Regions from separate parts of the Homo sapiens genome. Here regions 1, 2 and 3 are each reported to be linked to region 4. The links are microRNA targets in miRTarBase. Many come from high-throughput screens and were not tested one by one. Region 4 holds a microRNA gene; each other region holds the end of a gene's coding sequence.
Evidence for each region. Region 4 holds the annotated microRNA hsa-miR-8087 (GAAGACUUCUUGGAUUACAGGGG, at 5,593-5,615, shown strand). A microRNA usually pairs through its seed, bases 2 to 8, with sites in the 3' UTR of a target mRNA and lowers its output. Matches are read on the target gene's strand: a 7mer-m8 pairs with bases 2 to 8, a 7mer-A1 pairs with bases 2 to 7 and ends in A, and an 8mer does both.

Region 1: miRTarBase lists GOLGA6L4 as a target of hsa-miR-8087. Seed matches in the 3' UTR shown: 7mer-m8 at 4,710-4,716.
Region 2: miRTarBase lists CACNB2 as a target of hsa-miR-8087. Seed matches in the 3' UTR shown: 7mer-m8 at 7,473-7,479, 7mer-m8 at 7,440-7,446 and 7mer-A1 at 6,864-6,870.
Region 3: miRTarBase lists SUGT1 as a target of hsa-miR-8087. Seed matches in the 3' UTR shown: 7mer-m8 at 2,088-2,094, 7mer-A1 at 2,166-2,172 and 7mer-A1 at 5,739-5,745.

What each region holds. Positions count from the first base shown.
Region 1 is chr15:84,241,381-84,249,391 of GRCh38, reverse strand. GOLGA6L4 (golgin A6 family like 4) reads right to left here. Exons shown (of 9, transcript NM_001267536.3): 8 at 7,143-7,245; 9 at 4,034-6,932. The coding sequence ends at 6,800. It also overlaps the pseudogene UBE2Q2P8. Among named protein-coding and RNA genes, the nearest start is that of GOLGA6L4, 9.6 kb to the right of the region's middle. RefSeq lists an enhancer at 2,780-2,919.
Region 2 is chr10:18,539,308-18,547,239 of GRCh38, reverse strand. It overlaps CACNB2 (calcium voltage-gated channel auxiliary subunit beta 2), which reads right to left. Exons shown (of 14, transcript NM_201596.3): 14 at 3,683-7,932. The coding sequence ends at 7,516. It overlaps NSUN6 (NOP2/Sun RNA methyltransferase 6), which reads left to right. Exons shown (of 11, transcript NM_182543.5): 11 at 1,095-1,679. The coding sequence ends at 1,307. Among named protein-coding and RNA genes, the nearest start is that of CACNB2-AS1, 4.0 kb to the right of the region's middle.
Region 3 is chr13:52,687,416-52,695,288 of GRCh38, forward strand. SUGT1 (SGT1 assembly cochaperone of MIS12 kinetochore complex) reads left to right here. Exons shown (of 13, transcript NM_006704.5): 13 at 319-7,873. The coding sequence ends at 420. Among named protein-coding and RNA genes, the nearest start is that of SUGT1, 39 kb to the left of the region's middle.
Region 4 is chr11:27,512,619-27,520,629 of GRCh38, reverse strand. MIR8087 (microRNA 8087) reads left to right here and starts at 5,583; the gene lies at 5,583-5,660. All of the region lies in intron 1 of BDNF-AS (BDNF antisense RNA), which reads right to left.

The DNA of each region.
Region 1 (8,011 bases), not on the chromosome of region 4:
AGTCAAAATTCTAACACTTGGTAAAATAAAAATGCACATATATCCCTGTCATCTAAAAAAAATGCTTAAGTATTCAAAGACAGACAGCAGTTATAGCTACTGAGAACATCATTGTAAGCAAACTGAGGCAGAGAAAACAAACGTGCTGATGAGGATTTGAAACACCTAAGCTGCAGAAACCCACTAGGTGGTTTCCTAGGTTCCGAGTTGGCATTATCTTTCAGAACGATCTTCTAGAAGAGATCACATAACACTGTTACAAAGGATCTGGAGAAAGGGACCCTGGCTTCATCACTCTGGCTCTCCAGTCATGCTTTACATTTTCACTTCTTACACTCTCTTTCATAGGAAGTCAATTTACAGGCCTCCATCAAGCCCTTAGAGACCTTTTTGTACTATCCATGACAAGTTCTTGATGTTATGTCTGCACTTCTGACAAATTCTTAGCAGTTAACTTACAAGGCAGTTAAGATTTTTGTTCAAGCACAATATAGCTAGAATAGGCTCATACGTTCAATAAAACAAATATTTACCAAGCATTTATTGAGTGGAAGATAAAAAGCACAAAGCATAATTATATTCTCCCCTGCCACCATAAAAAAATTTTTTAAAGCCTTATAGAATAAGGCATAACATGACCAAAGCAAAAATAGTGAGGACTAAAGAGGGGAGGAAGGGGAAATATCAGCATGAATTAAATATGACCCAGAAGAGCCTTGATGGTCAGACACGTAAAGACAAATTGGGTAGGGTTAGGGGGTGGCTGTCAGGGGCACATTCTACAGGGGAAAAATAGATGATACAGAAGCCTGAAAGGAAAAGCGGGCAGAGCACCTGGACAGGACTCTTACCTGCCGCATCCAGGGTACAATGCGCCTTTCCAGAACACAGCAGCGACCCGGGGTAGAGGGATCGCTCAAACAGCACCAGAGGCTGCATTCCAACTTTTCCTCCATCAACGAGTCCGTTTTCATTGTTAGTTTCTCCTTAAACACGATTGGCTGAACATGCGGGAACAAGGAAAACCTGACTGAAGAACGAGGCATTTAAGCTTAAGGGCCTTGGATCCGGGCGCGGTGGCTCAGGCCTGTAATCCCAGAACTTTGGGAGGCAGAGATGGGTCATTTGAGGTCAGGAGTTTGAGACCAGCCTGGCCACCATGGTGAAACCCACTCTCTACTAAACAACACAAAAGTTAGCCTTCCTCTTCTGCTTTTCCCAGCAGGAAAGGCCCAGCCTCACCTATGCAACCTGCAGCCCCCCGCCAACCAGTTGAGGCTCCCCTCTTAGACTTATATGTCTATGGCCAGTGCCATCTGGCTACCTGCCCTCCCTGCCTTCCCTAGGGTCCCTCAGAGGACCCTGGGTTTTCTGATGGCCCAGAGGGGCCTCTGGCGACCACTCCAGCCAGCCATCCCTTATAGCTCCACCATTTTGGTTCAGGCAGTGTTCCTTCTCTATCAGGCCTGGTGGCTGTTGGATGGGGCTCTCCAAGCAAGAGGTGGCCCTGGGCCAGTGGGTTGGAAGACATGGGGACCACAGAAGAGGGAAGCCCGAGGGAGCTGGCATTGGTCTGAACTGTGGGTGGATGGGTGGATTGCCTGGGTTCCATGAGACAGGCCAGCGTGTGTGGGGTAGGGAGGGCCGCCGCAGTCCCCAGGCACTACCTATGAAGCTCCAGCTTCTCCCTCCATCTCCCTCCCCTTTTCCTTCCAGCCCCTCTTTTCCAGGAACCTTGCCACGCCCACACGTACGCCCTCCCCTCCCCGGCCCTCCACAGCTGCTGCAGCGCACCCATACTCTGCACTTGCCTCACCAGCTCTGGCTTTTCTCTAACCCGTTTTCTCTCTGCTTTCTCTCCAACTGCCAGCTGATCGGGTCAGGCAAGTCCATCCCATCCAGGGAGCCCCAGGCCCCACTTCGACGTCTAAACAGATCCCTCTTCCCAGAGACCTCCCTTTCCAAGCCTGCCTGGGCGGGTGTCCTGTGACTTGACAGTGGCTCCCCCAGCCCCAAAGCCAGCCCCCTTCATCTGTGACTTAGTCTGTTGTAGTGGTGAGCTGACACGTCCAGGTGTGACCGTTGCTGAAAACTTGTGCCTCCTCTGTGGTATGCCCCTGCCCTGTTCTATAGCTATAAATTCTCACACACACATACACAAACACACACACACACACACACACACACACATATATACATATATACACGTGGCCAACTGCCTCACCTCTAGCACTGGGAATCAGTCCCCGTGCTGTGCTTGTGGAGTCTTGTAGCCCAGCAAGAGGAAGCTGTCTCCTGACATCGCCCCTCCAAAGTGCACCACCTCCAGTGAGCTTCCGGGACATGCGCGGCCTGTGGAGAGCCAGCCCCCGCCATCCCTCCCGCCCTTCTGGCCAAGCATGGCGGTGCTGTGCAGGCAGCTGTGTGGCCTGACAGTCTCTACCAGTCCTGCTGTCCCTCGGCTGAGAAACCCATTTCTGGATGACAGAGAATGTGTCCTCTGCTGGCTGTGTTCTCTATGGAGCTCAGGGGATGGAAAAGGCCAAGCCATTTTTAGGGTGTTGTTGGGAACAGTGAAAAGGTCACACCCTTTTCAAGGGACACTTTTCCTGGAAAGTCCCTGGAGCTCAGCTGGCTCTTATCCTGTGAAGCCGGCTCTGGCCACTAGGGGACAGGGCCCTGAACTCAGCCTGGAAGGAGCCTGTGGGGCAGCCGGCACTCTGGAGGGACAGACAGGCCACCTGGTGCAGACAGGAACGGGAGGAGGGGGATGGAACGGAAGACACCTGGGGTGGATGGAAGTCAGTGCCCTTGGGCACTGGTATCTGTCTTCCCTGCCACAGCTAGATCAGGCTTCTCAACCTGTTGACTGTCAGGGCCGGACTGTACTCCGTAGGTGCCATGGCAGTCCCCGTGAAATCCACCAGGTGTCACCAGGCAGCATACAGGTAACAGGCCTGGAAGATTCCCCACAGCCCAGCTGGACATGCTGAAACACTCTGGGGCTCCTCGTTGAGTGGGACAAACTGCAGGACCCAGTGAGGGAAACGGGAACATAACAGGCCGAGCAGTATGGCTAAATCCATTTATTCCAAAATCAAAAGCAAAACAACAACAAACCAAAAACAGGAGTCCCATCACCAGGGAGCCATGACCCCATCCCCGCCTCCTTCCTCGCTCCTATGCTAGCAATAAATAAGTTTCCCAGCCGCGAATAATTATAAGAACCTCTTCCTCATATGCCAGCTGCAACCTCCGCTAGGTACGATACAGAATGTTACACAGCTACAGTATGTACACGGGGGAAGGGGGGCCACCCCCAGCAGCCTGTGCCCTGGCCTGGTCTACAGTTAACTCCACTGTCCCGCCTCAGCTGCCTCTCTGAGTAAGAAGATGGGAGCCCCCCTGAGGGAAAAGTTGCTTTGGTGAGAGTAAGAAGGCCGTCAGACCTCCTCCAAACAAACCAACTCCACCAACCTCTGGCTCTTAAATAACAAACATCATCATCCAGAAATGTAAGGACTCAGCCTTGGTCAAGGTGGTAAAGGGTCTGTTTGTCTCCCTCCATTAGACAAGGGTCTTGTCTTGCTACCCTAATGGTAAAGGGCTGACTGGGGAGGGGTTGTAGGGACATGGTGGGGGTGAAGACTCCAGACCCACTTCTCCAGGCTTATGCTGACAGGGGCCTGCTTTTATTTATTTTTATTTTTATCCCATGACTTTTTTTAAATCCTGTAACTAATTTTTCATAACTTTTTAAAATAACTTTTCATAAAACTTTTTTTTTACTTTTTTTCCACAACTTTTTTTTGCCACTTTTCCACAGTATTTTTTTATCCTGTAACTTTTTCATCCCACAACTTTAATTTCTGTTAACTTTTTTAGTTTGTGTTCTTTTAATAAACACACTTACATAGTTACAATTTTGTAAGAATAAAAACCGATTACCTCATGCCAAGCATGCCGAGAATTTGCAGAGTCTCAATACCCAATACTATAGTTTTCAAGACACACAAAATTTTTAGGCAAAACAGCACCTTGAAACAATTTAATAATGTATTACATTACAGTAGCATCACAGAAGCAGTCAATAATGCCACTTTAGACAAAAATCAGTATTTCCATTATGCATTCTGTGTATAAGAATTCATAAATCGGTAAAAGTCATTCTAAGAAAACTTGGCAAATACAGCTTTGGACTGGAATTGGCATTTCTTTGTCTACTTTTCCTTCCCCTAGATTCTTTGTTTTAAACTACAGTATTCATATTTTAAAATGTTTTAAATTATTTTAAGACGTTAATATAGCAGTTACATTTTTGAATAGTTATTTGAAAGTGACTGTAAGATAAAGTTTTAGAGAATCTATTATGGATAGGGTTGATTTACATTTTCACATTTTCTAAAAATCAGCTTTGGTTTTAGAACTGATTGTTTTTCATTTTGGGAAAACCTACCAGGTTTAATCAATTACTTTAAAAATAATTATCATATTTTGCAGTCTTTAAATAGGTGTTTTGATTCTTTACTCCCTAGAGAAATTCAAATTTATTCAGTTGAAGTCACATTTTAAAATTCTATGTTCCTGCTGAACTCTAACCTTCTAATGTTGCCTTCTAAGCAAATTAAAGGCTGCCTTATACTGAATGAGGTAGAGAACAAATACTTGGCTGAATGAGGTACTGCAAAAGACTGCATGCACTTTGAAGAAAGACTTGAGTTATTGTCATAGGATTTCCATTCTCTTTAGCTTTTTCTTAAACATATGACAAAATACCTACACAAAGAGTCGTATTTGAATTAATATAGTATATTTATTTTTCAGACTGACATTCATCTTAAATATGCCAGTATGTGATTTAATCCACAGGTACCTGATGAACACATTATTGTCAGATTGGTTACAGTTGCTAAACGCTATCTGAAGGTCATTCCTATTCATTTATACGTGTCAGGGTAAAAGTGAAGCGATTTGAACTATAAAAATACCTTTGAAATAATTTATCAATGTATTAGATAAGCTCAGTTTCAGAATGATAAACAAAAACTGTTAGACCAAATAACGTGGCTAATTAACAGTGGTACGATTTCTAGCCCGAGGGTTTAAAATGGAGTTAAAGTAAGTGTCTTTAAACTGAACTCAAAGAATGCAAAAGCGGCAAGTTCAGACAAGGCAAGAACAGGACCTTTAGTCCATTTTAAGCCATAAATATTACACAAAATATGCCTCTAACTGAAACTGAGAGGTATAAAAACATATTTCACTCTTCGTAAAGAACTTTGTGAGGAAATATAACTCTGTGATTGTATAGACACTTTCCTCATGACACTTTGACAGTCACAAACAGTAGATTGCGCTGCAGTTTGTAAACATTTTACGTTGCATAAACTGCTCCTTGATTTTCAAATGTAGTATAATACTGTCTACTAAAACTCCTTTTTGTTTCAACTAAGTACTCTCACATATATTAGTTTATAATAATGTTTGTTATTATTTTTAAAGTGTTCTCCATTCAAGGAAAAGAAGTAAATTCCTATGTCAGATGGTTGAAGACTAGCTATTAGCCAGAGAGGTCTAGATGGTAAAATCCATCTTCTAGCCTCAAATAAGCTCCATGAACACAGAGGAATGCCAGGTGTCACACAGCTTTCCTTCACTCGAATTCATTCTTGACTAGAGCCTGTATATGCCTGTTCCAGGGGCATTTAAACTCTTAAAGGATTTCTTCTGATCTTTACTAAATACATTAAGGAGAACGCCAACCAGTGCCCTTTTGTGTACTGGGACATGTAGTCATGTGATTAAAACAGGGAACATGAACGCTGACTTTAAAATGTATTGTAGATATAAATGCTCTCAGCTAGAAAAGGTTTTCCACATCCACAGTCATGATGGGAGCCTTTCATTCCTCAGAAATAATCCCTTTTCAGGTCATCAAAAAAGAGTACAACTGCCACAGCTCATGAGGCAGTATCTTCATGAGCCCAGAGCACATACAAATCCTAAGGGAACTACCGTAGTACAGCGCTCATTCTTGGCACCGGAACAAATGAAACATATTCTATCCTGCACACACCTGCCAAAGCAGGCCACTTTCCTCTTCTGGGAGATTTAAAAACCTCCCCAAAATGTTATTACTCCCATCCCCAATACACAGAAAAAGGGGGAAAGGCTGTTTCCAGTGCTCCACCTTTAAACAACTGTAAATGTCAGTACTCACAGTGGCATATTACAAAGTAATAGACCGCGCACTTGAGGGCAAACTGCATATTGAGCTAATGAAGAGCTCACTGTGATTAGGATTCGATCAAACATAACAGCAGAACATAAGGAAATTTTATCTGAATTCCGTAATGAATATACAGGCTGTACTAACATTCAAAAAGCATGGCAGCCTATCCCAAACCAGCAAGAACAGTTGTGTGCATACAGTGGGTCTTTGTGTGTTTGAACTCCCACCACATAAGGGCAAACTCGATATGCATGCTAACGTCCTATAATTATCAAATTAAAAAAATGCTAAAAGATGCCAGAGTGAACATGAGAGAAACACCCACTCTCATTTAACTTTTTACAAATAAATTTAAATTATAAATTAGAAACACAAATAAATTTAAACTATAAATTAGAAACACAAATAAATTTAAACTATAAATTAGAAACACAAATAAATTTAAACTATAAATTAGAAACACAAATAAACATAAGTGGCTCTAACATTCAAATGAAGTAAATGAATTGTGTAGGATATTAACCCCTTAAATGTTTTGTTTTTTTTTTTCAATTCCTTGACCCGCTCTTAGATGATGGTGATGTTTAGCTCCCTGTTCTCCGCAGCCCGAAAAGAATGGCATGCAGCCTCTCCTGCTCCTCCTGCCGCCTCTCCTGTACCAACAGCTTCTCCACTCAAGCCTGGGTGCTCCTGGGGAGTCCTGCATTAGAGGAAGCAGCTGCTGGATCTGCTGTGCAGTGGGGTTGTCATGGGGGAGAACCCTCCCTGTCCTCTCCCGGTGCAGCCTCCATGCTATCAGTGAGGCTCAGCCCACTAAGATCTTCAGAGAGAGGGAGGGGGGTGGGAATCTGGGCACAGTGCGAGCCTCCCCTGCTCCTGCCTGCCCACCCCGCCTGAGGGCTCTACTCACCACCCTGCTTGTCCGCACATCCAAGCTCCTTGTGGGACTGGGGCTCCAGCTACTGGTCTGGCTGCTGCTGCAGACTCGGAGCCTCTTGGCTCTTCAGCTCCACCTGCCGGAAGACCCTGGGCATGAGGACATGTGGTGGCTGGCTTCCAGATTCCTGGCCCATTAATAGGGTAGCGAGGACACTGTGGGGCTCTGTGGCCTGCCCAGGCCCCTGGCCCCTTGCTCCAGGCCTAAGAGACTGTCTCCCTTGCCTAGAACCCCATGCCTCCTTCCCTAGCATCAAATCTCACGCCCTTTTTCCCAGCATTTAAACTGTAGGCCACAGACTGGTGGAAAAGCAGGCGGAGCCAACCACCATCTGCTAAGTGTGCTACATGCCTAATGTTTCCACGTATTATCTCATTTAATCCTCAGCACCTCTGCAAGGAAAAGGCTAACTTCCTTTTGAAGTTAAAGAAACAGAGACTTAGAGATGCAAAGTAGTTGAATTATGACCAGTGGAACCGAGGCCGGAATCCAGTTTGAATCTAAGGAGTCTTTTTTGTTTGTCTGTTTTGTTTTGTTTTGAGAGAGTGTCACTCTGTGTCCCAGGCTGCAGTGCAGTGGTGCAATCTCAGCTCACTGCAACCTTCATCTCCCGGGCTCAAGTGATTCTCGTGTCTCAGCCTCCTGAGTAGCTGGGATTACAGGCATGCACCACCAGGCCCGGCTAATTATTATTATTTTTTTTAATTTTAGTAGAGATGAGCTTTCACCATGTTGGCCATGTTGGTCTCAAACTCCTGACCTCAAGTGATTGTCCTGCCTCAGCCTCCCAAAGTGCTGGGATTGCAGGCGTGAGCCACCACACCCGACATAAGGAGCCTCTT
Region 2 (7,932 bases), not on the chromosome of region 4:
ATCTTCATTAACATGCAGATGATTGTCTGTGATGGTGACTTAGGATTATAGATCTTCTTCAGTAGTTTGCAAGTATCATTCAATGCCTTATGATTCCTCTAAACTAATTGATACAGCCTTAAATTATGTTTCCTTTCTTATGTTTGTTTTTCTAGAAACTTTTCTCGCCCAACTGGTATGGGTCAGAGAGAGGTACCTTAGATGCCCAAAGACCACCTTTCAGTTTTGGAAACTGTTAAATAAAGCTGAATTTTTTCTGTTGCTTTCTTTTTTCTTTTTTCTTTTTTCTTTTTCTTTTTCTTCTTCCCCTCCCCGTCCCCACTCCCTTCCTTCTCTTTTCTTTTCTTTTCTTTCATTTTTTGTTTTTTGAGATGGAGTGTCACTCTGTCGCTCAGGCTGGATTGCCCAGGCACAATCTTGGCTCTCTGCAACCTCTGTCTCCCGGGCAATTCTCATGCCTCAGCCTCCCAAGTAACTGGGATTACAGGCATGCACCACCACACCTGGCTAATTTTTGTATTTTTGGTAGAGACAGGGTGTCACCTTGTTGGCCAGGCTGGTCTTGAACTCCTGACCTCAGGTAATCAGCCCGCCTCGGCCTCCCTAAGTGCTGGGATTATAGGTGTGAGCCACTGTGCCTGGCCTTTGCTGCTTTATTGATAATAATGTTCCATTTACTGAGTCCCTGCTATATGCCAGGTGTGATACCACCTTCGTTACTTAAGCCTTGTTTAATAGATGAGGAAATGTGGTTAGTTAACATTACCTAAAGTCACACAGCTAAAATGTGGTAGAGCTGCAATTTGAGTCCACTTGTTTCCAACTAGGAAGCTCAGGCCTTTGATAATGTCACAGTGTTTGATAAGCATGTAATAATAGGTATTTGTTCATCAGGTGACGCATAGTATTGCTTTCCTACTTTACTGTCTGGAAAGCAGCACGTATGTTCCACCAAAATGAAAGGCATTTACTCATTTTTCTATTTTTGGAAGATGTAGTCGTTACAGCCCAATTTGTCTTTTAACTTAAATTGTAGCAGTCATACTTGCTAATTACAGGATGTTCATCCATATTGATCCACTTTCTCCAAACAGGAACCGCAGATTGGAGGAGAAGGAATGAGGGGAGCTGGGCTCTCATGTGAACAGTTGAAACAGCTGCAGCGATTTGATCCATCGGCTGTGCCATTACCGGACACTGACATGGACTCTCTTAGAGAGGCCAGAAGAGAAGACATGTTGCGTCTGGCTAATAAGGACTCTATAGGTTTTTTTATTGCAAAATTTGTAAAATGCAAAAGCACATAGGAGAGGGATGGATGCTCAGAAATGAAAATTCCAAACATTTGCTGTCTGTGGTTTTTTTTTTTTTAACCAAAGTGTTGTCAGGCCAACTGAATGATGATGTGGTTGCTATGGAAACAGAAAAGGCTGCCAGCTGTTTTACCAGGGATCCAGAGACATAGAGGAAGTAGGGGGTGGTATGAGATTATATTTTCTGTTTTTAAAAGATTTTTTTTTTTTATGTATTTAGTAGAGTATAAAGAAAAGCAGATGCCTATAGATGTCTGGAGCATATTTTCATTTGTGATCTAATGTTTTAATTTGTAAAGTGTACAAGTCATTTTTAATGTTAAAAATTAGTGAATCTAACAAAAGGAATAAATTAGCAATATTTGATGTGGTTATGAAAAGTTGTTTTTGTTTCTAGGTTCCTAGTTTCTTAAGGATTCAGGGCATGGGAAGTAAAACATTGACTATGTGCCAATAATGGAGGTAAGTATTTTACCTGACTCTCTGTCTGCTTATTTAGTAAGTCAACCCCCTTTCAAATGAAGTCTGGACCTCCTCTGAATGATAGTGTGAAGTGATAGTCTAAAGACTATCGTAGTCTAAATGGTAGTCTATGTTCAATGTTTTTCATAATTTTAAACGAAAAAGTAAAGTTAGTATTTTCTTTACTTTGTAGATTTAGAAAATGAGATTATTCTACAATTTGGATAACTTATCATGTATTTGAAACATATCAGTTATTAGAAAATGCTTGGTGAGAAAGAAAAAACCAGCTCTGGCAGCTGGGAAGTGGCCTGACCTGACCCTTATAGCTGGGCCTTGGTGTTCTCCTGTTGAACGTAAGCAGTTTCACCTATCCCCAACATCAGACAAGGCAGCCGTACCTATCATAGATCCAGACAAAAAAAGACCACAATCAAGTCTGAATTCAGACAAAAAGCAGATCATCCTTCGAATTGCAAAAATCAAGCATCCCACTGTAGTGGCCAAAATAAGTGACTGCTTTTCAATTTAATTTTACTTTTTAAAGACAAGGTCTTGCTCTGCCACCCAGGCTGGAGTGCAGTGGCATGATTTCATAGCTCACTACAACCTCAAACTCCTGGGCTAAAGCAATCTTCCTGCCTCAGTCTCCCATGTAGCTAGGACAACACAGTTGTGTGCAACCATGCTTGGCTAATTTTTTTTTTTTTTTTTTTTTAAAGAGATGGGATCTTGCTTTGTTACCCAAGCTGGTCTTGAACTCCTGGCCTGAAGCAGTCCCGCTGCCTTGGCCTTCTAAAGCACTGGGATTACATATGTTAGCCATTGCACCCAGCCAGCTTTTAAAAAAAACATTACAGCCTTAGGATTTTGCCTTCCTATTGGCTTTTTAGATCAATCAGAATACTTACTTCCCAGCCATAGTTTTAAGGCTGTCTCATGGTGTTAAATCCATCATACTGTTTTGTTAACTTTCATTCAAATCACCCAAAAGTTATTAGGCCTTGGGCTTAAGAAATGGACAATTGGTTAATAGTTTGATTTCCGCCCGCCCCCCCGCCCCGCCCTCCACAGGTTTTCTTTAGGAATTTCTCATAACTATTTATTGTATCCATAAGGATTGCAAGGTCTCTTGGATCAGGTAAGACCTTTAGATTGCCTCTTCTTTAAAGGAGGCTTTCTTGAATACCTTTCCCTGAGGTTGGATAGGCACTGCTCCCCTTCTCTGTGCCCCTGGCTCCCACATCTAATGTTCTCCTGGCACTTACGACACTCTCATTCAAATTTTCTAGCCATGCACCTTAAGCCCCAGCCCCACACCTGGGAAACATCCTCCAGGCAGAGACCCTGTCCTGCCGTTTCTCTGTCACAGCTTCAGAGCAAACAGTCAATAGATGATTATTGTTTGAGAGAAAAATTATTTCAAGCAAACATGTGTCTCTCTTACATCCCTCATTCTGCCTTATATCCAGTAGCTGTCATTTGACTAAAGAGAAACACTTTTCCTGTGGGACTTATCTTTTTAGGGCTCAGCATACCTCTTTAAACTTTAAATGTCTTTTAAGAAACTCTACAAAAATCATTTTCTGTAATGCTTGCTGCACATCCTTATTTGCTAAGCTGGGATGAAAATGGCAGAGAATCAGCCTAGCAACAAACTTTTACTGGTGTAAATGTTTGATTAATACCAACAAATATCAAAATACAACCAATGCCAGTAAATAGAAGAAAAGTATTTACATATTGGAAACAGGACAAAGAATACTATTCAGAATTTTTCCTTGAACAGAGCTAATTTTCAGTGGGTTTCTTCCTTTCAAAAACTTAAGCAAACTGGAAAATCACATAAACTTATGGGACATAGCAGTATAAGAAAAAAATGCAATAAGGTGAAAAAATCAGGGAAATGTGAGGGAAAATTAATATATATTTTAACATTTAATATTAACATTTCTATGAAACAGAAGAAGTACTTAAGTTCAACAGTGAGTACATTTACTTTAAAACCCTGTGTCATGTTTTAAATAATGAAGCAAAGTACAAATAGTTAAAAGTACAGCGCAGCAGAAATTAAACTCTTGATCCAGAACTCATAACTGACCCAGATTATTCTGCTAGAGCTCACGTTGAATAAAATATTTTATCTACGTGGAGGTATCTTTTTTTTTAATCAGACATAATAGGAAGATTACTAAAGGAACATAAAGTATTTAGCATTGCCCCAAGAAAGATGCCCTGCAGCTGGGAAGTGTTGAATATTTAATATAGTCTCAACTACATGAATCATTTCTAACATGGCAATTAATACTACTACTAATAAACAGTGCAGAAGCCAGCTCTTTATTTGTTTTATATGAATTACTTTAAACCAGGTTTGTTAGACAGTTCAGTGTAGCTGACAGTGAATGTTTAACAGGAATGCATAGCAGACCATGTTAAAAATGTGGCATTGTCCCAAAGTACAACATGACTAAGACATCCTACATTTAGCAGCACCTTTTTGTAACAGTAACTTAAATGAGCAGTAGAGAAAGAGCATAGGAAAGACTGAAATGGATATGACCAAAAAAAAAAAAAAAAAAAACTATTAAATACATTTCCAGCATTTTCTAGGTTGACTACAAAAATGGCTCTACAACTGAGTAGGTTAAGGTTAAGCCTTTGTTGTGTGAAAAGACTGTAACTTTACATTCCGCAGGTCAGTAAATATCCCATTGCCCTTGAGATTATTTCCTCATTTACAGATTTACTACACAGTTTACACATATGTCCACTATACAGTTTTTCACATATAGCGGCTCTTATGTCAAATCCTTCAAGCTAGTTCTTTGAGGAATATTCTGATTTGCACTAATATGTTCTACAGTAAAGTGCAAGCTAAGAATCTAGATACAAAATAAAAAAGATGGAAACTCTCACCACTACTTTTTGAAAGGGATTAATGATAGCAGCAAGTAAGATAAATACTAGCTATGTTTCAAGAATTTAAATATTCTAAAATCATTAATTGGGATGAAATAATAAAGGATTGAACTAATAATTGTGAATCTCTTACCATGACAAAAGTTTTATCAGAAATATTTTATAAATTCAATTTTAATTAGAATATGGTTTCCTACCAATGTAAGAATTGTCAAGTTTATTATGACTACTGATTTTATACTCAGTAAATAAATTTATGTAAACAGTGTAGGGCTAATTAACGAACTGAGGGAAATTTTTTCATATATAAGCTGATAAAACATTATATATGTAACTAATTTTTATTTTCTTTTTTTAAACACCAGGTTGTCACCAGGCTGGAGTGCATTGGTACAGTCACGGTTCACTGCAGCCTCCACCTCCTGGGCTCAAGGGATCCTCCTATCTCAGCCTCCCAAGTAGCTGGGTCTACAGGTATACTCTACCACCCCAGCTTAATCATTTTTAATATTGCGTTTTCTTGGGGGTAAGGGAAATAAGGAGTTAAATGTAAAACAGTTTTACTTATAAAAGGCTAAGAATATTTGGTAAGAACTTGGAATAATCAAGGAAGCAAAACAAAGTAGATTTTATAATTTTGCTGGATAGTTTTTTTTGTTTTTTGTTTTTTTTTCTTTTTTGGAGATGGAGTCTCACTCTGTCACCCAGGCTGGAGTACAGTGGTGTGATCTTGGCTTACTGCAGGCTCCACCTCCTGGGTTCAAGCAATTCTCCTGCCTCAGCCTCCCAAGTAGCTGGGATTACAGGTGTGCACCACCACACCTGGCTAATTTTTTATCTTTTTAGTAGAGACGGGGTTTCGCCACGTTGGCCAGGCTGGTCTTGAACTCCTGACCTCAGGTGATCCACCCTCCTCAGCCTCCCAAATTGCTGGGATTACAGGCATGAGCCACTGCGCCCGGCTGATTTATTTTGTTAAATAAGTTAATGTGCAGATCTGAAGTTAGGTAATTATACACAGGCATTTTCCTGGGACAAACTTCAAGTGCCAGGTACTTGCACTCTTAATACTGTCTTACCATCCAGTTATAACTGGACAAAATATACACTTGAGACACGGAAAAGGTCTTAGCCTTAAACATGATGACATTGTAAGCTTCTTACAGCAGTGTAATTGAGGCATGGAGATAATGTCTTCAAGGTTCCCCTTCTGTGTACATGTCTTATGTAGGATAATATTCTTAACATTTTATTCACTTCAAGTCACCCCATTTTGCCCTGATTTCTTCTGAAGAACAGAAACTTTGGTTATAAGAAGCACTTCTGGGTTCTGACAGACAGTGAACCTGCTGGAGTCGGTGGTGGGGAGGAATGGTAGGTAACTGGGAGGTAAACAAACAACAGGAACAATAGGCAAGGTTAGAAATTGAAGTGGGAGAAGTTATAAAAATTTATTTTCCCACGAAATAATTCCACAAGCTGTGTAAACATTTCTTACTAAAACAAATACTCTAACACACAAAGATTGTACATTTCCAGTGAAACACTCACAGTAAAATTGCCTGTATTTTCACTCTCTAGGAGCAAAAACAAGGAGGCAGCAGATGAATGCTTTCCTAGTTACCTTTGGCAGCAAGCTTACTCACATTCCCTGACTGCTCAATGGGTTGTTAAAGCAACATATAGCACAATTAATTAAATACAGAGCGAGGTGGGCAGAATGCTCGATATCAGTCTCTAGTTTCTTCGTTAGTCTTCAGCATTCCAATTCATCTCAACCATTCAGTCACTCGGTGCACACTTTCTTACATACGGACACACACACGTGCATATAGCGAGTTCCGGCTCGTAGACTCCAGTGCAGTGACTAGAACAGACACTAGCTACTAAGAATGTGTCACAATCAGTGTGAACTGTATGGAGTAGAACAACCTCTGGAGTTTTATATTTACCATAATTTATGGTGGAAATTACAAACTTACTTACAAGGATGGTATAACATTCAGAATTCAAACCTTTTCAAGTCAAGCAATCACACATATTTACAGTATGTACACACTTTCTACTAGAATGAGGATAGGTGTCTAGACAATGTTATTACAAATTTCCTGAATGTGGGCATTTCTAGTCCCTGTAATTCATAAAGCAAATCTGCTGACTTGGCATTAAGACTCTAAAATAGTGTGATCAAACTGATATATATATATATTATATATATAATAAGAAGGTGTTTGTTTGCAGAAATAACATTTACAAACTGTCTATACAGTACACAGTACTAGTACATAGAAAATAGATTCTAACTTTATGATCCCCTTTGTGTAAGGCAAGACTGAATCTGTCCCCAAATTTAGTCAGCCAGAGGTACAAGCAAGAAACAGTGGTCCATGAATGAATATGCAAATCAGATGCCTGCGTATTAACGTATTAAAAATCTGGAGAAACAAGAAATTCCACTTTTTATCTGTGCTGATTCTGGCTTGTTGGATACATCAACTACATTTCTTAAAACACTAACATCACCTGGGTGGCAACAGATTTTGTTCAAGTGGCAGCTACCCAAAACAGTTTTTGAAGAGTCCAGTATGCAACCGGAGGACTGCAGCCATACCAGGCCAATTTATGTAGCACTTACAAAAGAAAAAGTATCTCAATACTCTATCCATGCTATTGCTATTCAAGCAACAGCAATAATACAAAATATTACAAGACAGATCACATATGATTGCAGTGTAGACCCCAAAGACTTTGTTTTGGGGATGCTGTTAGTTATACAAGACTTCAAAAAAAAAAAAAAAAAAACACAAACGGGCAAAACTCATTGGCGGATGTAAACATCCCTGTTCCACTCCCCAGCCTCATTCCGTTTTTTTGATATCACTTCTCCATCCTTTTCACAGTAGCGATCCTTGGATTTATGACGGCTGCGCTGCTTGTTGCACTCGTTGTGGTCCTGCTCTCGATCCACGTCCCGGGAACGGTGCCGGGACTCCCTGTGTCTGTGGTCACTGCTCCCGTGGGTCTCGTCTCTGTGGTTGTGGTCACGGTGTGAGGCATAGTGGTCCACGTGGTCATGGGAATAATCTTCCTTTGGCTCTACGTAGGCAGAGTCTCGACTCTCCTGGGTTTCCGAGTCAAATGTCTCTTGCCTGGAGAGGCCGCGACTTGTCCCACTGCGATGGTTGTGGTGTGGGGCTGAGGAGGAAGAGCGGTGCTGGGATTTCTTGACTGGTTC
Region 3 (7,873 bases), not on the chromosome of region 4:
AGTTTTTCCACATGCACATCTATGCTCATTAGCAAAGGATGTAGTGCACCTCCCTGACTACTTTAGGATTTCCTTTTCAGATTTTATGGAACTTGTTAACCTCTGGAATGCCTAAGTTTAAATAAAAATATTGTTTTGAGTTTATATTGAGCTATATATTTTATCTGTATAATCTATTATATATGTATTGCATAGAGTTTATATTGAGCTGTATATAATAGCCAATATTTGGGGCTCTATGCTTGGAACATTTTAAGAAAAATATTCTATTTTGATTATATGGTCCAGGAATTAATCTATTTTTATTTTTCATTGCAGATGGAGTCGGGTGGTACAGTTTTGAGTACCAACTGGTCTGATGTAGGTAAAAGGAAAGTTGAAATCAATCCTCCTGATGATATGGAATGGAAAAAGTACTAAATAAATTAATTTGCTCTCATCGTATTGTGTATATTCACCTAATGCCCATTGTGTATTGATATTGCATTCTTGAATTTTGAACACTGAATATCTTTTTGAAAGATTATACTTCTTTACCTCTTTGTGCTTTAGAAATTATTTTCCTTCAAGTGTTCAAGTCTAATGAAGAATGAAGATAACATTTTATCACTTCTGTCCTTAAAGGTTTCAGACATGGTGAAACTGAATAAAGCATGTCATTTGCTCCTAGATAGATTCATTCTATCTAGTTGTGGGGATGGAGAAATCTTTAATGGTATATTTTCGGTTATTGCCTTATTTTTGATACAGTATTCTGTCAGTAATTTATTAGACCTGGCAGCTTTGGGTGAGCTTAGATTTTTCACCTTCAGTGTTACATTGTGTTTGCTTTTAAAAACTGCTTTTGAATGGAGTTGTAAATACAATTTTTCTATGAAGATGTTTGGTTTATTTACCTTTTTCTTAAGTTTTTAATGAGAACTTTGAGAAATTATCACAGGGAATTCCCATGTAGTTCTTTTAATGGGAAGAATTTGTAAATTTAATTGCACTGAGATATTTTGGTCGTTACCTTGCAAGTTTCTGTATAAAACATAGATACCTGAGTTTTAACACACTGCAAGTTTATACTAAGGATAATCTGTGAAGGTAGGGCAAAGAAGGTTCTAGGAAAGCCCAACTCCACTTGCTTCTTTTATCACGACAGGATTCTTGAAATTACAGCATTGGTGGGTTTTTTGGTATTTTTTTTCTTTATTAGAAAATCTCTGTTGTCACGTCCCCATGATTACTTTGGTTTCATTGGTTTATGGTAACTGCTGTGAGAGTAAATTAATGTGTATATGTTTAGTATTTACTCTGTGCCTAGAATATATAGATATCATGAGAATACAAAAAATTAAAGACATGATTATTAACTTCAAAGAGCTTATAAATGTAGCAGGGAAAAAAAATAACATTCATGAAGGAACTGTGGAAAGATTGAATGCTGAACTCGGTATAAATACACTTTAGAGACAGGAAAATGTTCTGTGATTAAAATTGTTTACAGTCTAGGCTGTTATAAAGTATAGACTATGGATGACCTGTAGATCTGACTTTGTTTTCTCACCATGATTTTCTCAACTGTAATACCCCAGATGTTGGTCTCAGCTCTGTTAGGTGTCACTAACATTTTTATGGCAAAGCACTACTCTATACCCTCAGAGCAGGGGGAGTGGGAGGCAAACGGGTCATCATTTCAGCCTCCAAAACAGTAGGAATTCAGCTCCTTCCTTCTCGTCCTTTGTTGTGGGGTGTAGGGGAGTTACTAAGGAAAGTTTCAGTAAGGTGATACCAGATGGTGCCCAAACCTGTTGTTATAGCTTGTTTAAGCATTCTAGAGTTTTCACTTGTCCTTCTGTCCACTTAGAGCTACTAGATACATTTTTTTCTTCTTGAACACTGAAGGAAAAGGCAAAATTAAGTTTTGGTTGGATGGATTTCTAAAGTTTTCTTCTTAGGAAAATAGGATAGTGACTTTTGTATTCTGTATGTTAAATTTTCTCAGTACCATTAATCCTAAGATGAAGAGGAAGGCTATTGCTGCAGAGGCATAGTTGAGGACGTATAGCACTATACCAGAGACAAGAATGCTTAGCTCTAGCAAGTCTTCTGTCATTGACTACCTTCATAATCTTCAGCAGGTTTAGGCCTTTCTTAGTTCCTTTGTAAATAATCCATAGAGTCTTAGAGTTATAATTAAAGGTCCATGGTTCTAAATACAGAAGCATATTTTTGCCGCTTAACTTTTTCTTTCTTAAAGATGACACTATTAAAATAGCTGTTTCTGACCAGGTGCAGTAGCTCATGCTTGTAATCCCAGCATTTTGGGAGGCGGAGGTGGGCAGATCACCTGAGGTCAGGAGTTCAAGACCAGCCTGGCCAACATGGTGAAACCCTGTGTCTACTAAAAATGCAAAAATTAGCTGGGTGTAGTGGCATGCACCTGTAGTCCCAGCTACTTGGGAGGCTCAGGCAGGGAGAATTGCTTGAACCGGGAGGCAGGGGGTGCAGTGAGCCAAGATCATGCCACTGCACTCCAGCCTGGGCGACTCCATCTCAAAAAAAATAAATAGCTGTTTAAAAAAAAAAAATCTGGTACTATCTTTAGTTGGTTTTAAAGGATATATTATCTAGAATATGCTTACCCATTGGCTAGATTTGCTAAGTGTTGTGGGATTTGGGATTTTGCTGGTCTGAAGGGAGTTTGTAAAACACATGACTGAAAGCATTATAAAACATACCTTGTCAAATACATTAGATTCATTATAGGTCAAGGGAATTTTGAAAAGTAGGCTAGATTGCTGCCTAAGAATCCCACTCTAAAGTACTGCTTTGTTTAATCATTCTAGATAATGGAAGCTTGTAAGCCTCCAGAAAGTTAAAACAAAAAACTTCTTTCTGATTAAGAGCCTCTTAACTCTATCCTTATCCTCTGCTATCTCAATGTAGCTATTAATTGTTCCCTCTTTGTTTCTAGACTCCAATTTTCATTTCTCAAATTTTGGTTCTCAGTGCTGTTAGTATTAGTAGCCTTTTGTTTCTTCAGAATGTATGTATTTTTCCTCTTAAATGTTTCCTTTCCCTTTTAAGGTTAGTCCTGGAATACATGTTTTTCTTGGTCTTGTAGACTTCATCTCTTCTGATTTCCATAATAATTTGCACCTTGATGAATCCAGAATTCTCCCACTGTCTTCAAAGAATCTTGAATAGAATAATCTGCTTTTTGAACTCTGCTATCTAGTAATCTCTTTAGATATCTATACCACAAGTTTGAAACATCAAGGTCAATTTTGATAATTTCCTGTCTTATGTCTTAATACCCATTCAGAGTTGACTGCCAACTAACAAGCTCAGCCTTTAGCACTGGCACTTACTGGCCAATCTGTTTTCTGTCTATAGGGAGTGAAATGGAATGGAGAAAGAGGATGGCTTGCATTAATAACTCTAGTTTTTAAAAACATTTTTATTCCTTTTTTAAAAATTTGTTTAGAGACACGGTCTTCTTCTATCACCTAGGCTGGAGTGCAGTGGTGCGATCATGGCTCACTGTAGCCTCCAACTCCTAGGCTCAAGTAATCCTCTTTCCTCGGCTTCCCAAAGTGCTGGGATTACAGGTGTGAGTCACTGTGCCTGGCCCACATTTTCATTCTTGGCTCACTGTAGCCTTAATCTTTCAGGCTCAAATGATTCTCCCATCTCAGCCTCCCAAGTAGCTGGGACCACAGGCATGCATCACCACGACTGGCTAATTTTTGTATTTTTTTTGTAGAACCGGGTTTCACCATGTGCCCAGGCTGGTCTTGAACTTCTGGGCTCAAGTTATCTACCTGCCTCAGCCTACCCAAAGTGCTGGGATTACAGGAGTGAGCCACCATGCCCAGTTATGAACTTCAAGTAAATATTTAAAATGGAGATACATCACAATGCTATTATGAATAATTTAGATAGAAATTTTAATTTAGTTCAGTACTTAAATATTTTTTGGCTCTTCTTTCCCACTTTACCTTTCTCTATTCCTTCCTCAGTTATCTACATATCAGATTAGATTATTGATATCTGAGATATATCACTGACCCAGAGCAAAATTGCATATTAGTTTACCATCTAATCAGCCTAATGCACTTAAATTCCCTTGGAATCTTTCCTGTTCAGATTGGTGTGCATCTCTCTGAACTTGTAGCTTTACTGACATTTCCAAAAAAAGGTAGACGGTTTCTAGGTGGTGTGTGTTTTTGTTAGTTACTAGAGCCACTTACCCTTTGTAACTAGCTCTAAAGAAGTACATCTTTTGCTCATACCTGCTACTGTAACCATATGACAGTATGGATTTAAGTTATTTCTGCCTAGAGGAATTAGATGATAAAAGCTAAAAGGACAAAATACTGGTTTCTGTGCAGGGAAGGGTCATATGTAGTTTTAAATAAAAGGGTTCATCTCTTTTGATGTGGTTTCCCTTTCTCCATCTGTGCATTTTTTAAATCGTAAGATCATTTTACACACACCAAGAGATTTTATTTTGGGAACTTGTGGGGAAAATATTGATTTACCTACAAATGTTACTATTTGGAGCCATCCTTGTGATTGGTTTCTGAGATTAATTTAACTCTTAGCCTCACTTCCTACCTTAGTAAAGTTGCTCCTCCAAATCAGCTAAAATCATATACAATGAATGCTGACTCATTACTGCAAATAGTGGTAGTTACTGTGTACTAGCATTTCTTATGGATTGGGTGGCATTATCTCATTTTTAATCGCCCTTCAATAGCATCCCATTATTGCAAATCAGAAAGATGATGGGGCCAAAGTAAAGTTCTTTGCCCAGGTCACTCTACTAGTAAGTAATTGCAATAGCTGGGATTTGAACCCAGGCCTATCAGACTCCATTACCCATACTTCTGACAACTGCAATCCTCTCATCAGGTTAATAAGCTAGATGTGGAATGAATGATTTTTATTACCAAATCAGCTGACTGGAAATGAAGCAGAGAATATTCAAGTTAAAGAACTAATTCTTTTTTTTTTTTTTTTTGAGACAGTCTCACTCTGTCGTTCAGGGAAGGAATGCAGTGGTGCAATCTTGGCTCACTGCAACCTCCACCTCCCAGGTTCAAGTAATTCTTCTGCCTCAGCCTCCTGAGTAGCTGGGATTACAGGCATGGGCCGCCATGCCCAGCTAATTTTTGTATTTTTAGTAGAGACGAGGTTTCACCATGTTGGTCAGGCTGGTCTTGAACTCCTGACCTCATGATCCGCCCACCTTGGCCTCCCAAAATGCTGGGATTATAGGCGTGAGCCACTGTGCCCAGCCAAGAACTAATTCTTATATAGGAGCTGGGAAGATAAATTCCTAGAGATCCTCACTTTCTTAAGTAGGAAAGCTTATTAGGAATCCAAATCTTTTGCCTCATACTGGAAGTAATGCAAAGAAGTAGTCTGATTTTTGAGAGGGTGCTGTTTTTCTCAAATCTAGATCATTACAGAGAAACAGTGTACTTTTAACAACTGTTGCATGTGTAAGAAGACTGGTACATGATGCCAATGAAATTCTTTTTTTCCTTTAACTTGGGAGCTCTCATACCAGTTCCGTTGTACAAATGCTGAGATTGTTTCAAGGTTTTATTCCTACAGACATGTTAGGATTTGTGTATCACTGATTTCTCCAATAAAATTTGAATATTTCAGGTTATTTCCTTTTTCCTAACTTATGTTAGCATTTTGTATATATATATATATTTGAATTTTGGCTTGTCTGGAGTCTTAAATATTTGGTATGCCTTCACATTTGGATTTTTAGTTTTATTTTTACATTGAGACTTCTACCTATATCATTGACTTTATTTTTTCCTATGATTAAAGGATTCAGTTATACAAAAAGATGTTTCAGAAACACTGCTATTTACCTAAAGGTAATTTTCAGTTTCTTTAGAAGGAGTTAGGAAAATGGTCCTTAATACCTATATAGGGTTTTTTAAAAAACTGTACCCTATAATGCAGCCACAGAAGATCTAAATAATAAACAATTGCGCATACTATTAATATATATTTAGAGCTTTTGTTAAGTACATGAAAAGACAGTATTGCATAGTGGTTAAATGCATGGACTCTGAAGCCATCCTGTTTGGGATCATCCTGGCTACATTGCTTACTAGCTGTGTGACAATGGATATAGGTGCTTAATGTCTCTGTGCCTCAGTTTTTGTGTCTATGTAAAGGAGATAATAGGATCCCCCTCATGCCTCATGGTCTTAGTTGAATGAATTCATGTAACTCCACAGGTATCTTAATCCAGAAGGCTCAAAATACTAATGTTTTGTGTGTGTGTGTGTGTGTGCATGTGCATCTGTATGACAAGTGATATAAAACGTGACCTGAATTTATAATATGAATAGTCACATTTTGCAGCAGAAATATTAAATGTTTAATTATAGAATGCTAGCACTGATCCTGCTGAAATTGTTACAAAATACAGCAGTTGCCCCTTAACTGTGGCAGATACATTCCAAGACCCCCAGTACTGAATGCTGTATGTACATTTTTTATACATGTATACTTATGATAAAGTTTATAAATTAGGCACAGTAAGATATTAATAATAGAATATACAATATACCGCAATAAAACTTATGTGAACAGTTATTTTTGGACAGCAGTTGACTGTGGGTCACTGAAATTGTGGAAAGCAAAACCATGGATAAAGGGGAACTATTAATAGTCTATCTGTATTGCATTATCTTCTAAAATCCAAAATTCTGACTTCAAAAACTCATCTGAGGGTTTTGGAATTGTGTATCTATGTGTGTGAAGTGCAAAGAGCAGTGCTTCATGTGACAGATAACATCAGATGATCCTAGGCTGGAAGGTGGAAATCCTAGAGAAGATTTTTTTGTGTTGTAAGTTCAGTCTTTCAAGATGTGGAATTCTGTCTGAGGAAAGTATATCACCTAGTTAACAATTGTTACTGTAATTTATAAAATTTGTACTTTGGAGAGCATAAGAATTCATGAAAAGTTTTTAATAATTTTACTTAAACAGAGCTTAATTATGTAAGTATTGTCAGCACTTTATAAAGAATCGTAAAATAAAATAGTGGCAGAAAATATAAACTAGATGTAGAATGTTAAGGAACTTTCGGAAGTTCTCTGGTTTTCATTTCAATTTCAAAGCTCAAAACAGAAGGTAAAACTATTAGGATTTGTGAAAAATACAAGGTACAAAATCACGCAGTTTATAAACCACAGATTGTCTTGTTATTCCCATCAGTGAAAAGAAGCTGATATTTGTTTGTGTTTGTTTTTGTTTTTGTTTTTGAGACGGAGTCTTGCTCTGTCGCCCAGGCTGGAGTGCAGTGGCGCCATTTTGGCTCACTGCAAGCTCCGCCTCCCGGTTCACGCCATTCTCATGCCTCAGCCTCCCAAGTAGCTGGGACTACAGGCGTCCGCCACCATGCCCGGCTAATTTTTTGTATTTTTAGTAGAGACAAGAGTTTCACCGTGTTAGCCAGGATGGTCTCATCTCCTGATCTTGTGACCCGCCCGCCTCGGCCTCCCAAAGTGCTGGGATTACAGGCGTGAGCCACCATGCCCAGCCTGCTGGTAGATGTTTTTATGAGTTAATTCATCAATCTTATTATTCTTGCCCCAAATGAATCAGTGTGGAGCATATACAAGTGTGTAGACATTAATATGGGCTCACTGTCAGCTGGGAGTTCTCACAACTACCACTTTTTACTGATTATCTGTTTTCTAAACTTTTTCTGTGGCTTGAAGTGACTGAAAGTGAACACATTCATAAGTAATGAGCTTAGGCTGAGGATATATATCCAGTGGGGGATGAAACATGCTTAAGAAATTGAGTGCATTTCCTTTATTATTGTTATTATTTTGCTATT
Region 4 (8,011 bases):
AAATCCTGAAGGAAAACATAAGATGAAATAACAAACAGAAAAGACAAAATATCCACATTCCAAATATGGGTTTCTGATGCCAGAAGAGTCTTGCCCTATCTCAAAATGAGCTAGTGTGACTATATACTTCATGGTTTAACTCAAAAGGAAATACTTATTAATTGTTGAGACAGAGGCATTGCATAATACCAGTGTGGGGAAGATGTTTTGAAAAGGCATCTTTAAACCATTCCCAGGCATTTACCCATATGCGCAGCTGTTCCTGTATAGGACTTTCTTCACATTAACAACAACAATAAAAACACATAAAAATCAGCCCAAGAGTAAATGTTTCCTAATGGTTAGAAAAATAACATTTTACCTGATACTGCGAATGAGAGATTTTCAGGTCACGTTTATTGAGAACTAGCAAGATGAGTCAGTAGCTAAGATCTGTGGAAATGCCCTTAATGACTTTTACAATTGTTTCCTTAATAATGGACTCTTAATAAGCAGGTCAATGTTAAATTAATTACATGGAAGTATTCTAAAAAGCATATTGAAACCTGATTTTAGCCCATTCACTCAAGGATTAAAGTTGTACTTTGGGTTTTTTTTTTTTTCTCTTCCTGATAGAATATCATCTATTGGAAGGAAATGTTTAAGCTTGGGGATGAAGTTTAAAATATAAAATTAATAAAGAGAAGAAAATGTAGTTCTAACAGCAACCAGGCAAAGGCTATGTAGGCCCAGAGCCACAATCTTTCTGCCACTCACTGATTTTATTACCCATGGTTCATTCAGCAAATGATCAAGGAGCTTCGGTAATATGCTTTGCTACCTGCTGGAGAGTCAGTGATGATTACAATGCCATTCTTAGCCGTGAAGGGGCTCACTCTCTGGTTGGGGAAAATAAACACTTTAGCAAACACAATACAATATTGATATTTTGTATACAGGGCAGAGCAGAGAATGGAACATTTGAAGTGGGTCTTGAAGGATGAGCAGAAGTTTGTTAGAAAAGGAAAGCGTGCCAAGCAGAAAGAAGAGCATGTAAGTATGATGCAGACTGGCGTACTGGAGAAGCATGAGCAGTTCTGTGGGACAGGACTACAGGATCTGAAAGGAAGAAGTAGGAGAAGAAACTGCCCATTATAGAAGCATCCAAATTATTACTTCTATGCTACCATTGCACCATTGTCACCAACCTCCTCTCCCAATCTTCACAATCAACCCAAATATAGTCATTTTGCACAAGAAATCCAAGCACAAGCATATTATAATTTTTGTAAAGATTACCAAAGCTCTGGAAGCCATGAAGAAGGGTCTCACAGCACAAACATCAGCATTGCACCACTCTCTCATTCCCTTGGCCTTCCTCACCCCTCACTGCCCATCCAACCCAGGCCCAAATATGCAGAATTTCTCCCTTCTCTGCAGTTTTGCTATTTTCCAACAACCAGAGGTTAATAAACATCAGACAACACCCAAAATAAGGGTGACTCCCTTAAAGGAATTTTCTTACAATCTGCTATGAGAATCAAAGCTTTTCCCTCTGATTTTATTTCTAAAACACACTTTTAATCCTATTGCTTCCATTTTTTAAATCCTTCAATAGCTCACTCTGGCCAAAAGAATAAAATCCAAACTTTAGCAGCTTGCACTCAGCCTCAATCTAAATGCTAAGCCCCCTTTCCTTTTACAGCTTCCTCAGGTTCCGTTGTGTAACCTATACCCCACTGAAGCCCTCCCTCCTACTTCCTGAACAGGGCCTATATTTTTTTTCCAATGGGGCTTTGCTCATTTAGTACTCTCTCTGGGATTCTTGTCCCCATTCATCCACTTGTGAAAATTCTGATCCTTCTTGTACAACGTATCCATCTTATTCAAGCAGGGTTTCTCAACCTAGGTACTACTGACATTTTATGCTGAGTAAGTCTTTGTTGTAGGGAGTTGTCTTATGCATTGAAAAATGCTTAGCAGCATCTCTGACCTCTACTCACTACGTGCCAGTACCAACCCTCACCCTGACTATCCATCTATCCATTGTCATAACCATTAAAAATATCTCCAAATATTGCCAAATGTCCTATGGGTTTGAAAATTGCCCCTGGTTGAGAATCACTGCTCTCTAATCTGTTTTCTGGTTACCTCCAGTGAGAAATCATTTCTCCCCACTCATTACTCCACAACACTTTGCAACTCTGTTAAAAACCCCTATAACTAAAGCAACAACAAGACCAACAATAAGCAGCAACAACTAAAGCAACAAGAGCAGAATAATATTTAATGCCATCTCCTTTGTTTCTGTTGGTTGCTTATATGTCTGACCCTTTCCACTGGGTTTGTGAGCTGTTGAGAGAAGGGTGAAGTCCTGGTGCCTCTAGACCCCAGCACAGTGTCTTACCATAGTAGGTCATAATTTGAATTGACTTTAATAAAGCTATTGTCTTCATCTATTTGTCTTCTGACTAGCCATTTGATGGCCACATCAGTTGGAAGATCGAGAAGCTAAAGATTATTGAAATGCTCTTTTGCAAGGTTTTGTTCATATCTGGGAAGTTATAAGAAACACTAAGAACAGGGAATGGTGGTTCATGCCTGTAATCCTAGCATTTTGGGAGGCTGAGGCAGGCAAATCACTTGAGATCAGGAGCTTGAGACCAGCCTAGCCAACAAGGTGATATCCCGTCTCTACTAAAAATAAAAAATAAATTACCCTGGCATGGTCACAGGTGCCTGTAATCCTAGCTACTCGGGAGGCTGAGGCAGGAGAATCAAGGCAGAGGTTGCAGTGAGCCAAGATTGGACCACTGCACTTCAGCCTGGGCGAGAAAGGAAGAAAGGAAGAAAGAAAGAAGGAAAGAAGGAAGGAAGGAAGAAGGAAAGAAAGAGAAGGAAAGAAGGAAGGAAGGAAGAAGGAAAGAAAGAGAAGGAAAGAAGGAAGGAAGAAGGAAAGAAAGAGAATGAAAGAAGGAAAGAGAAAAAGAAAGAAAGAAAGGAAGGAAGGAAGGAAAGAAAGAAAAGAAAGAAAGAAAGAAAGAAGGAAAGAAAGAAAGAAAGAAAGAGAGAGACAGACAGGAAAGGAAGGAAGGGGAAACATGGATCTGGAGGATCTGGAGAGGGTTTTTTTGTTTGCTTGTTTGTTTAATCTTCACACTACTGAATGGTTTGTAGTTGAGTAAATACTAGCTTTCAGAATCAGTTTGGGTTAAAACAGTAATGTGGCTTATTTCAATTTAGTTTGAGTCAGTTTGCAGACAATGGGTTTTTAGGTTTAAAATATAAAGTAGTGGTCCAAACCATAAAACATAGCATTGCAGTACATACAGGTAGATAACATTCCTACTGTCTCATTGGTGTAGTTTCCGTTTGCTGAAATTGCCTGAAAGTTCCTCAAGGACATGAACACATCTGACATTTCTCCTCTCTCCTGTAGCACCTGCTAGTAAACGTTTTTGAGTTAAGTTGAAAACTTTCCAATGAAGGGAAATAAATCTATTGACCGGGAATGCTGCAGGAACTAGGTTTAAAGGTAATTTCCAGAAGTTGTGGTGTAGTATGGCAAAGCTTGCTGAAGGCTTATCCCCATATTTATTTTACCTTTCTTCCTTGGGGACAGAGTTGAGATTTTGTAGCTGGGCTCTTTGTCACTCAAAATAAAAGATTTTACTTCCTAGTTCTTTTGCAGTAAGATGGAGACATGTAACTGAGTCTGGCTAAGAAGATATAGGTCAAAATATTATGTTGGACATCTGAAAAGGGTGCTTTAAAGATGCTTATTCAACTGGAAAGGGTGATTTTTACCCTTCTGCAATTCCTTATTCTTTTTTTCTGGCATGCAACTCACATGTAATGACTGAAATTCCTGCAGCCATCTCAGATTATGAGTGAACTTGACTATGGAAGCCATGTCCTAGGATGGTGATGCAAAATGAAAAAAGCTGGGATCCTGGTGATACCATGGGGCTGTCATACTTGCACCAAGTTACCTATCTATGGATTTCTTTCATTCACTTTAAATGCACTATTATTTTGGACTTTTGTGAGTTTTTTTTTTTTTTTCAAAATAGTTTTTTGTTTGTTTTCCAAAACAGGGTCTTGCTCTGCCACCGAAGCTGGAGTGTAGTGGTACACTACAACCTTGAACTTCTGGGCCTGAGCAATCTTCCCGCCCCAGCCTCCTAAGTAGTTAGGACTACAAGCACACACTATTATGACTAGCTAATTTTTTTTATTTTTTATTTTTGTAGAGACAGGGTCTTGCTATGTTGCCCAAGCTGATCTCAAACTCCTGGCCTCAAGTGATCCTCCTGCCTTAGCCTCCCAGAATACTGGGAATAGCTGGGCGCGGTGGCTCACACCTGTAATCCCAGCACTCTGGAAGGTCAAGGTGGGTGGGTCACTTGAGGTCAGGAGTTCGAGACCAGCCTGGTCAACATGATGAAATCCAATCTCTACTAAAAACACAAAAAATTAGCTGAGCGTCGTGGCAGGCGCCTGTAATGCCAGCTAATGGGGAGGCTGAGGCAGGAGAATTGCTTGAACCCGGGAGGCGGAGGTTGCAGTGAGCTGAGATCATGCCAAAGTTGGGATTATAGGCATGAGCCAACATGCCCAGCCTGGATTTTTGTGTTTATATGCAGCTATACCTAATTCTAATTGATGCATATTTAATTGTAATTCCACAATTTTTATGCCTTCCATGTGGTAGATCAATGGTTCTCAACAAAAAGTACATGTCACTCACAAAAACCTTTATATTTTCAGAAAATACAAATGTTCATGCCATACTCGAGTTTTTGAATCAAAATTTACATGGTGACCCTCTGACGTGAATTGTGTGACAAATATATTTTTCAACAAATTAGATAAGTTACATGACATACATTCAGTTATATATAGTATATACTGCGTGTGTGGCAAGAGAGAGAGATTTTTATAGTATTTCCTAATATTCTTTTTTATTCTTGTAAGGTTAGTAGAAATGTCCCGTTTCATTCCTGATTTTAGTAATTCCTCTTTTTTTCCTGGTCAGTCTAGTTAAAGCATTGTCAATTTTGTTGATCTTTTCAAGGAACCAGATTTTGGTTTCATCATCTTTCTCAATTGTTTTTATTTATATTCTATGTTTTCCTATTCTGTATCGTTATTTTATTCTAGTTCTGCCCTAACTTTTGTTGTTTCCTTTCTGCTACTTAGTTTGAGTTTAGTTTGTTTTGCTTTAAGTGTCTTAAGATAGAAGTTTAGGTTGTTAATTTGATATTTTTCTTTTTTTTAATATAGGCACTTATAGCTATAAATTTCCCTCTAAGCACTGCTGTAGCTGCATCAAGAATATATTTTTAAAGCCCTACAGAGAATTCTGATGTGCATGCTTGGTGAGAGTATACTGTACTTCTTTGCCACTATAAGGTTTTTGTTTTTTTCAATTTCCCAGCATGACTGCTGATCTTCTTCATAGACAAAGGTTTTTTTTATAAAGCAAAATACTTTGGCTTTGGTTTGGTTAGATATTGCAGAAAGACTCTTGATTGCAGCTCAGAAATTTCTTTCATAGCCTAATATAAAAATCAAGGACATGTTTGCTTTACTTGATTTTCTCTAAGAAGTGAAGACTTCTTGGATTACAGGGGCCCTACTTTAAGGGCCCTTTCAGTTGGAAGTTTTCCTTTCTGCCTGTATTTTTACTATGCATATTTTTGGCAGCCCAAAAGCAATGTTTATGTCCATTCATCTGATAGTGAAAGCTTACTGTGCTACCTAAGTCCTTTCTCTTGGTCTGTGTACTTTCCTATTTGCCTTGCTTTTTCCACAATTTGGCAGCATTATCACTTACTCCACGTGACAAGTGACATCATTGCTATAATGAGAATTCCAAGCAGCACCACTGGATCAAAGCCCATCTGTGTGCCTGCTCCCACACTTGACAAAACAAATTCCAAATTCATTCAGCATGCCGGTGCCATTTAGTCACTGTGACATATCCTAAATTTTGGACTCTGTGCAAAAACCAATCTGTGCCCACAAAATTAATCACGGAACACATTTTATGACGTTTGACAACAACTTAAAAGGTTCTCATCTCTGGCAGTTGGCTCTGCCAATCTGCAAGTATGTGCACGACAAATCCTGAACAATACATTGTGTGGCTGAAAATACATTGTGCAGGATGCACAACCTGAAGAGGGCCAGAGTTGAGTCCAACCAATCCTGAAGTCTTTCTCAGGGACAACTAAGCCAGACTGCTGCTTTGTGAAGGAAGGATGATGGCCCCAGGTACATGCAGAAAGCCAAAGAAAAGGCAACAGTTCATGTGCCAGTAGATGCTGAGAACCTTGGCACAATCGGCTGTGTTGGCAGGACCAAGAGTTTGCAATCGCTAATTTAAGCAACAAGATCCTGGCAAACCGATTTATATAGGGCAAGGGTGCGTCAGGAAGATGCCAGAAAAATACATCAATCTGTGCCTTTACATGTACTACAGAGTGATGATGAAACAAGTGACATTAAAAAAGTCAACCCTTACACTTTAATAGAATCTGCAACTCATCCTACAAGGAAAAGTAGGGTTTATGTTAGATCTCTGGAACTCACAGATGGGTTTCTATGTTCTGATCTGAGATCTGTGATAAAATTTCCCTTCAAAGGTGCTCTTGAAGAGATTTTTCCATACTGTTATGATTACTTAATTAGGCCAAGTGTTTTTATATATTGTTTAAATTATTTTAAAATGCAGACTCTTTAACATTTGACAATATCATTCACTTCAAATAAAATAATCTATTCAAAATTTTACTTTGCTGAGTACATCAGAGAAATTCTGTTAAAAAAAGAAGATTGAGACTTTAATTGTACAGTTAGAAGCCTTTACTTGAGAGTAATGTTCTACCCTGCAATGGCATAACTGTTTCAAATAGCTATTTTATGTAGTAGTGCCTATTTGTGTACAGTTCAACAGGCAATGAAATAGTAAAACACTCCACTTGGAGCATGTTGCTTCTCCATATTACTTTCCATTTTCCTAGCTTCCCTTTAGACAGCCTTCTACTCCCACTGTTCCCCACCCACTCCTTTTTTCACTTAGTACGTTGTATTTGCAATGTCTCGGGTTAAGAAAGCTTTTGTACCTTGGCAGCCTACTTAGGGTTTTCATTTGTTATACAAAGACTAAATTTCCATAATTTAGCTTTCACTGGGATTTGTCTAGACCCAAACATCCTATTCTAATTTTACAGTTCCTCTACATCTCTGAGGCAGGAAATAATATGAGGAAGCAACAGGTGAAGAGGAGTTCTTCCACACGAAGAGCAATTCTTGATTAGGAGGCCTGGTGATTTAATAACCTGGCAGAGGCATAGAAGGAAAACCAGCTTCCCTTGGTTCATGCTCCTAATGGCCTCCTTTGAATGTAGGACAGCAATCCATCTTCTCTTCTTTAATATGAGGGAGTTGACTCTCTAGATCTTTCCCGACGCTAATACTCTTGAATTTCGATTAACGAGGAACATTTCGGGGTTCTCTCCTTACACAATAGTTGATTCTTTTGTTTATTTTGTATGTTAAGTACAAGCTGGCTGTTGGTTAATTTCAGGCATATTTTTCCCTCTCAGAAGTAGTTTCCAAAACTTTTTTCTTCCTTATCTATGCCTAAAATAATATAAAATAAATTTTAAAATTAGCTAGAAATGCTGCCCTTTATGCAAGAGCTACATATTCTTTTATAATGAAAATCATTTTCTCAATAATTTTTCTCTGCAGTTTTATAGGGAAACTGAATTTTAGTAGAAAAAGGCCCTAGAAATAATCTTTTAAATCCTGAACACAGGTCCCTGTGTCAGGCTAGCTGTGTCAGAATCACTAGGGATTTTTTAAAATATAGATTCCCAGAGCCTTCTCCTAAGGATTCTGATTTGATAAGTCCATGAAGTTCAAGGGAATCTGTATTTATATTAATTACTTTATTGACATAGAGTAAAGTAATTTTTAATGTGCTGACAGATTTTTTTTAAAGATTTGGGGTGTTGCTGTG